3 separate regions of the Homo sapiens genome follow, and regions 2 and 3 are each linked to region 1. The links come from fine-mapping of genetic effects on gene expression. A gene starts in region 1. Each other region holds a variant in brackets. All regions are shown on one strand. Distances are between the middles of the regions.

The links. PIP is the estimated chance that this variant, and not a neighbour inherited with it, causes the effect.
Region 2: its variant is fine-mapped to the expression of TMEM263 in whole blood (INTERVAL, PIP above 0.99).
Region 3: its variant is fine-mapped to the expression of TMEM263 in whole blood (TOPMed, PIP 0.99).

What each region holds. Positions count from the first base shown.
Region 1 is chr12:106,954,655-106,957,418 of GRCh38, forward strand. TMEM263 (transmembrane protein 263) reads left to right here and starts at 1,253. Exons shown (of 4, transcript NM_152261.4): 1 at 1,253-1,411; 2 at 2,428-2,495. It overlaps TMEM263-DT (TMEM263 divergent transcript), which reads right to left and starts at 841. Exons shown (of 1, transcript NR_185933.1): 1 at 1-841. RefSeq lists a silencer at 881-1,640 and enhancers at 917-1,211, 2,141-2,200.
Region 2 is chr12:106,933,575-106,936,338 of GRCh38, forward strand. No RefSeq gene overlaps it. Among named protein-coding and RNA genes, the nearest start is that of TMEM263-DT, 21 kb to the right of the region's middle. The variant CGT/C (reference allele first, on the strand shown) is at 1,292.
Region 3 is chr12:107,116,144-107,118,907 of GRCh38, forward strand. No RefSeq gene overlaps it. Among named protein-coding and RNA genes, the nearest start is that of CRY1, 24 kb to the left of the region's middle. The variant C/T (reference allele first, on the strand shown) is at 1,552.

The sequences.
Region 1 (2,764 bases):
TAATCAGATTGCGAAAGGAAACATCTCACGTTTGCATAGGACTTCACAGTTCATAAAGACCTTTCCCACCCACCACAAAAAAAGTATGACAAGTTTCCCGTCATCTTCATTTTATAGGTGTGGAAAGGGAGTCAAAGAAAAGTTAATCGATACCATTTATCTAGTTAAGCAGGCTTTGAGCAGTTCATCTCCTCCCGTCCTCAAAACGACCTTCTGAGGTGTCTCCTGCAACCCTGCTCTGAAGCTCAGAGCGAGACGGCCTCACATCCCAGGGGGCTCAGCTCTGGCGGGGCCGCCACGCGCCTCCCCGTGCCTTTGGACGGGTGAGGAGAGCTGCTGCCCCGGCGGGGACCACGTGGAGGGGCCTGGTCAGCAAGTGGCAAGGACGCGGCGCAAAGCCAGGCTTTCTAATGTACAATCCGCGGCTCTTTCGATACTGAACACCCACCTCTTCAACAAATTCGAGCGCCTGGCAGGCCCTGCACCAAGCCTAGGGTGATGGCGACCCAGGCGGGTTTTTACTCTCAAGGAGCTCAATTCTAGGGCAGGGAGAAGTAAAATTAAAAAAAAAAAAATCATAACAAACTGAAAAACACATAAATAAGCCACGTCTCTCCTCACCCCTAGCACTTAATCACAAAGGCCTGTAGAGAGTCCCGACGAGAACTTCTGAGCAGGCCCCGCTGTCAGTCCCTGAGGACAGCATGCAAGGGAGGTTGACGTCCCTGGACGAAGAAAGTGCTGGAGAAACTGGCGACCGTCCCACCTTCCCTAAGGCGAAGGCTCTGAATTCCGAAGACCGTTACTCGGCGCGGAACGCGGGCACCGCCGACGTCAAAACACCGGGCCTGGGGGCCGCGGCCTACGCGTCTCCCGGGCTTCGCGCCCCTCGCCCGATTTGATTGGATGGTGGCGGGAAGAAGGCGGGGAGACCCCCGGAGGAGGGGCGCGCAGGCCGGCCGGGGGTTCCCACGGAGGCGTCCAGGGGGCGAAGGGGCGGGAGCGGGCCTCGGAGCGTCGCGCGTGCGCAATTGGGACACAGCCGGCTGGGGACTGCTGGGAGGGCCGGACCCTGCGAGAACGGGTGGGCGTGTGCCCGGTGGGCGCGGGAGGGGCCCGGGCTGCACGAGCGCGCGTGCGCGTCGGAACTGGAGCCGCGGGAGGAGGCGGGAGCTGAGGAGGCGGCGGAGGGGGCGGGTCGCGTCGGGCGCCACGTCCGCAGCCAGAGGCCTCCGCCTCCACCACCGCCGCCACAGTCTTCCAGCTCCACATCCTGAGAGGACGCCTCTGGAGCCGCGACTGCCCGGGGTTGTGCCGGCCGCCGCTGCCGCCCAGGCCGCCTCAGCTCTCCTCTGCGCCGGCCCGCTCACTCCGCCCGGCCCCAGCCCTAGCGCTGGCCGCGACCCCGGCGGTGAGTGAGTCGGGATGCGAGGGCAGGGGCGCAGTCCCGGCTTCCTGCCCTCCTCCGTCGCCCTCTGCCGTCGGCGCCCCTGCCCCTCACCTCCCAGTGCCCGGCCTGGCTGCCCAGCGGGGCCTTGGCGAGGCCCCAGCGGGAAAGGGGGAGGGGCGGGACGAAGTTGGGGGCGGATGGAGGTTCGCTTCTGGGGCTACTCCTCCTTATACGTCGCTGACTGCCCCGCCGCGATTGGAGCTTGCGCACCCCTGGAAAGCCTCCGCCTGACTTCTTAGCATCTGGGGGTTCGGGGTTGGGGGCGGAGGAGGAAGGTGAGGGGCATCAGCAGCCTGGGAGAGGGATGCAGCGGAGGGGCTTGGGTACCGGGCTTCCTCGCCCTGCCAACTCCTGACCTGTTGCTAAACCTCCCTTTTGGGTTCAGGCACACAAGACTTTTTCCCAGTGGACACCCCCATAGCTCTTCCTGGGTAGGAAGGCTGTATCTCCACGCCTAACCTAAAGTAAAAGTGGGAATGGAGAGGGTGCTGGCCGCGCCCAGGGGTGACAGGGAGGGCTGGAGCACCCATCCGTGCCGTCACTGCCTCCCAGTCTAAATAAAAACTGCCTGCTCTGCACACGCAGCTTCAAGACCGACCCCCCAGCTCCCACTTCCAATCAGATCGCCTGTCCTAAACCCTTCTTACATAGAAATTCTGGAGCCCTTCGGGAGTGGGGGGAGTGCTGGGTGTACAACGTGGAGCGGAGGGAGGAGGTGCCAAGCTCAGTGCTAGCCACGGCGCCTCCAGGGTCATTTTCTGCCTCCTGCCACGTCACTCACTGCTAAAGAAAAAAAAAAGATTTGCTAGTGCCTAAAGGGATCAGTAGGGAGAGAAGGGGCCACCCGGAAGGGTTTAGAAACACCTAGAGAAAAGGGAAGGGTTCTTAATTTGATTTTTGCGTCCTTGTGAACACTGTGCTAATTCCAAATGAAAATATTTGCTATATGTGATTATTTGCTGTATGCTATTGTTTAGCCTTTGAAACTTCTGCTGGTGTGAGTGCCCTCAGGGGTTCCCCAGGAATATCGATACAACACCAACAGGTAAACGCGCGCGCCCGTGTGTGTGTGTGTGTGTGTGTGTGTGTGTGTGTGTGTGTGTGTGTATGTGTGTGCGCGCTCGCGCCCATGCTTAACTTTTTAAAAAGAAAGGGAGAAGTAGCCTTTGATAAACCCATATGCATCCTGTTTTGCTTTTTCCACTTTCATTTCTTTAGTCTTTGTTAGAACAGATGTACCAGAAACCAAGTTCAGTAAAAATTTGTCCATTTATAGAAAGCATCGTTAGAAATTATAACGGTTGCTACATTGGA
Region 2 (2,764 bases), 21 kb before region 1:
TAACATAACATCCATTTTGTAGTCCATGGATCAAGGAGTAATTCTGACTTTCAAGTCTTACTATTTAAGAATTATGTTTTGTAAGGCTATTGCTACCATAGACAGTGATTTCTCCAATGGATCTGATCAAAGTAAATGGAAAACCTCTGGCAAGGATCTATACATTTAGATGCCATTAAAAATATTTGTGAGTCAAGGGAGGAGGTGAAAATATCAACAATAAGTGGTATTAGGAAGGAGTTGATTCCAACTCTCATGGATGACTTCGAGTTCAAAACTTCAGTGGGGGAAGTAACTGCAGATGTGGTAGAAATGGCAAGATAACTAGAATAAAAAGTGGATACTGAAAATATGACCAAATTGCTGCAATCTCATTATAAAACTTGAGCAGATGAGGAGATACTTTTTATCGATGAGCAAAGAAAGTGGTTTCTTGAGATGAAGTCTGTCTCTGGTGAAGATGCTATGAACATTACTGAAATGACAACAAAAAATTTAGAATATTACATAAACTTAGTTGATAAAGTAACAGCAGGGTTTGATAGGATTGACTCCCATTTTGAAAGTTATACTGTGGGTAAGCCGCTATTAAACAGCATTGCATACTACAGAGAAATCTTCTGTGAAAGAGTCAACTGATGTGGCAAACTTCATTATTGTCTCATTTTGAGAAATTGCAAAAAAAAAAAAAAAAAATACTGGGCATGGTAGCACACACCTGTAGTCCCAGCTACTCAGGAACACTGAAGTAGGAGGATCGCTTGAGCCCGAAAGGTTGAGGCTTCAGTGAGCCATGACTGTGCCACTGCACTCAAGCCTGGGCAACAGAGAGAGACCCTGAAAAAAAAAAAAAGAAAGAAAAAGAAAGAAGGAAGGAAGGAAGGAAAGAAGGAAAAAAAAGAAAAAAAGAAAGAAAGAAAAAAAGAAAGAGAAAAAGAAAAGAAATAGCCATAGCCACCCAACCTTCACCAACCACCACCCTGGTCAGTCAGTAGCCATCAACATGGAGGCCTGACACTCCACCAGCAAAATATTGTGACTTGCTGAAGCCTCACGTGATTGTTAGCATTTTTTGGCAGTATTTTTAAATTGAGGTATGTACATTGTGTTTTTTAGACATAATGCTATTGCACATAACAGACTATATAGTACGGTATATAAACATAACTTTTATATGGACAGGAAAACAAAAAAATGTGTGATTTGCTTTATTATGATACTTGCTTTATTGTGGTGATCTGGAACTGAACCTGCGATATCTTAAAAGGTATGCCTGTGTATAGTGTGTGCG[CGT/C]GTGTGTGTGTGTGTGTACCCATGAATGCATATATTAAAATGCTGGTTTTAGTATTCTTAGAAGGCATTTATGAAAACAATTCTTGCACCTCTCAGAGTAGCTATGTGCCTCTTGAACTTGGATATATATTTAGAACATTCAGATAAAAATGCAAATATGATTTTTGTTTGCTTTTTATGGAAAGTTATGGTGAATATTTTAATTATATTGAATAGTTCTTTGATATAATTTATGAAACCACATACTTAAAAATCTAAAATGATGTAGATTATTAGAATCTACAACTTTATTGGCAAATTATTTTTCTATAATAACCATTTCCCTAAATAAACATACTTTTGAAAACAATCATGTGCCATACTTTAAACAAATGATTTCTCTGTTTATAGGATAAACAAACATGGTCCTCTTGAGGTTATATTTTGGAGTATACATTTAAAAACTGTCAGTAAAAACTGTCTGGTGTTCAGCTCATTAGCCAGTGTTCATTTTAATTATTTAAAAATTTATTTTTAAATCTCAATAGCTTTAGGGGTATCGGTAGTTTTTGGTTACATGGATGAACTCTATAGTGGTGAAATCTGGACTTTTAGTATACCAGTCACCCAAACAGTGTACATTGTACCCAGTAGGTAAATTTTCATTCCTTACCCCCCTTCCATCCTCCCCCTCATTTTAATTCTTGAGCATTGATTAGTAAAGCTTTTCCTTTTTTTAAGTTCTACCTAATTTGTCTTATTTTTAGCTAAGTGGGTCACACAGCTCTAAAACCTATTATTTATGGAAGCTAACATTAAAATAAAAATCCAGGTCAATACACATGTAAATCATGGTTGTCCTACATTGGAATAAGTTGCCAACTCTGCCTTTAGATACATTATCTAATGTAACAGTCAAGTTTACTTAATGGCAACAAATCAGTATGTGCTCTTCAGTGACAAGCAGTGATAGTGCCTTCATCTATCAAAAAAGTGAGAGGAAAACATATCATTACTTTGTACACTTAAATTGTTTCAGTGAGGCCAGGCATGGTGGCTCACACCTGTAATCCCTGCACTTTGGAAGGCCAAGGCAGGTGGATCACCTGAGGTCAGGAGTTCGAGACCAGCCTGGCAAACATGGTGAAACCCCATCTCTACTAAAAATATAAAAATTAGCCAGGCATGGTGGCATACACCTCTAGTCCCAGCTACTCAAAAGGCTGAGGCATGAGAATCACTTGAACCCGGGAGGCGGAGGTTGCAGTGGGCTGAGATTGCACCACTGCAGTCAGCCTGGGTGACAGAGCAGCACTCTGTCTCAAAAAAAAAAAATTATTTCAGTGAAAAATAATTGAAATTGTGATTTTAATTAACATTTTAATGACAAATTTAATGTATGTAATTGCCTATTCATTTTAAGTTAATCTCCTAAAAATCTGACTTGAGACATATATTTTGTTTGCATTATGAACAGTAAGCAATCTGAGAT
Region 3 (2,764 bases), 160 kb after region 1:
CTCAAGCCATCCTCCCACCTCAGCTTCCCGAGCAGCTGGGACTACAGGTGTGCGCCCCCACACCCAGCTAATCTAGGCTCAGTTTTGTACTTATGTTAGAGTTATCTGTGGGTCTTCCGAGTGGGGATGCCCAGAAAGCCTTTAAATATATAATGCAGGATCTCAAGAGAGATATTTGAGCTGGAAATACAGATTTGGCATCCTTAGCATATAGTCGTTGGAATGACTGACATCCCTCAGGAAGAGTGTTGGCAAAAGAGAAAAGGGCTTGGAGGCAGAACCCTGGGGCCAGAAAAGCAAGAAGTGTCTGCACAGAGAGACAATGAAGAAAGATTTAAAAGAGAGCTAGGAGCCACAGGGAGATGATGGTTTTGAGATCTACAGAGTGGTCACAGGTATCAAAAGCAATCTAAGGTCCAAGGAAATCTTGATAGGAGCAATTTTAGGGGAATTGTCGGCTTGCTCTCTCATTGCTTTTGAATCCCTGTGACTACTGCCTTGTGACCAAGCCCAGCCTAGCCTGCTGCATGATGAGAAACCACATGGAGAAAGGAGTCAGTTATCCCAGCTGACCCAGCTAGCCTTACCAACTAGCCTTACCATCTTATGGTACAGCCGATGACAGCATTACCACTGAGTTATTTAGCTTTTCTTTCTTCCTGGTAGTAACTCACAGAAGACTTTTGACTCCTGGACTTAAAGATATGTCTAATGGTGAGGATACAATTTTTGGAGGAGATTCCACAAATAAGAGCTCTGCGTACTATCTGAAGAAGATATACTCTACTTTCTGAAGCATTGTCATCAATTCCATTTCTTAAAATTCCTGATGTTTGCATGTACTTGCTGCCTCACACCTCCACTTTAGAAAAGTGTGTTCTTAAATCTTGGGTCCAGAAATGTGGTAATGGACCCACTTTAATTGGCTTCCAAGGTAATACAGTTCTCTGTATTTCCTTCTTCAACGTGGCCTTTGTAGTATGCAAATTTTCGCATCTTCCCTGACAAAGCATGATAGGTGCATCTTTATCGATAAGAAATGCTTGCTCTCTTAAGGACCATTGCTCTGGCTATTCAGTAGATTTTGGTGTAGGGACCACTTTCTCTGCAGGAAGTCTCTGGTGGTTAGCAAGCCCTGCTATATGGGCATTTTAATCTGCAAAGTGCTGAATTAAAGGCTCTGTTTTGTTCGAGCAGCCTTTTAAAAATGTAATAGCTGCTATTTCATCTTGTTTGAACATCTTGTATAAGTACATGACAAGTCAATTCCAAAATTCCTTGTCTGCCTTGAGGTTTGTCTTTCGCTGAAGAAAAATGATGAAAGTGGCCTCTTATCTTCCTGTTTACAGTCAGTCATTCTGCTTCATTAGGCTGCATGCTAATTACTTTCTGAAAACACAACTGAAGATTCATGGCCTAAACAGAATTAAATTACTAAAAGCTAAATATAGCTTTGGAGATTATTTTATTTAATGTTAAGAGGGCTAAAACAAATAATTATATAAAAATTAGAATTATGAAATAATCTAATCTCTATATTCTGCCTAATGC[C/T]ATTTAAATTTTTATAAAGCTTTTTGATTCAAAAAGGATATTATATTCTGCCTAAAGTTTTCTAGTTAATGCTATCTCTATTTACATGTTAGAAATTTCTTGAAATTTTTTTTCATAACATGGAGAACTTTCATAATCATCATGAACTATTCCAGCATTTTACTCTGGCAAATTAAAAATATACATTTATACTTCAACTGAGTGATAGGAGTTCAAAGTCCAAAGCACACAAATAATTTCTTTTTACTCTCAGTTACATCTAAAATACTTACCTATGTTTGAAAGTACACGTTCAGATATTAATAATGACTCTGAATAGCATGTCTTATTGTATTATTGTGCTGATTAAATTTGATGGTAACTATGCATTCACTTGCTCATTGATCAAATGCACATTCAGGGAGCCCAGAAATGACATTAAAGTTGGCATTCTGTTACTCAGCCTTCCAACGGTCAAAGCCAATACCTAAACACATTTTGGCCAAATATTGTGGCTGAAGCCAAACTTTAGTACAACCCTCATTCCCAGGAAACAGTGATTGAAAGGAAGTCCAGGCATTTAGGCAGGAAGAAAAGGGCAACTATAACCACAACACCAAGAAAAATAAAAAATAAAATAAAAAAAGGCCAGCTATAATAAGCAGACATGATTTATTGCTCAAATTAGCAAGGAATATAGAGTTAGGCCAGAAATAGGATTTGGTGATCAAGGATAGAGAACTTTCTTGTGAGTTCAGGGACACTTAGATTAGATCTACCCTTTAGGAAAGTCTGCTAAATGTCATATTAATGCTAAGTTCTTTGTATGTACAGCCCAGATGTCTGCTAGGTTGATAGGCTCTGCTAATTAGTAGTTCCACCTCAACCTGCCTCCCAGCACCATCAGTGATCACAGTTATTTCCAGAAGACACCCAAAGTGTGATTCAAACCTTTCTTCTGTTGCTTGGTATCATATGTCTACCGACATTGTCTATGCAGCTGCTTGGAGAAGGCTCCCCACCCCGCATTGCTGCCACCTTGCATGGGAGTGCCCAGGACCCTGCCAAGAACTGTACTGAAGATTTGCCTTTGGGTACTTTCAGATTTCAACCCCTGAGGTGCCTGAACAGTGTTTGCCAAGGGTTTGTTTGCCAAGGGTTTGGGCAGCGTGGTGGAGTAGCCAGGCGAACATGGTTTCCTTCAAGATTGCTTCTAAAGCAGCTTTTCTTATGC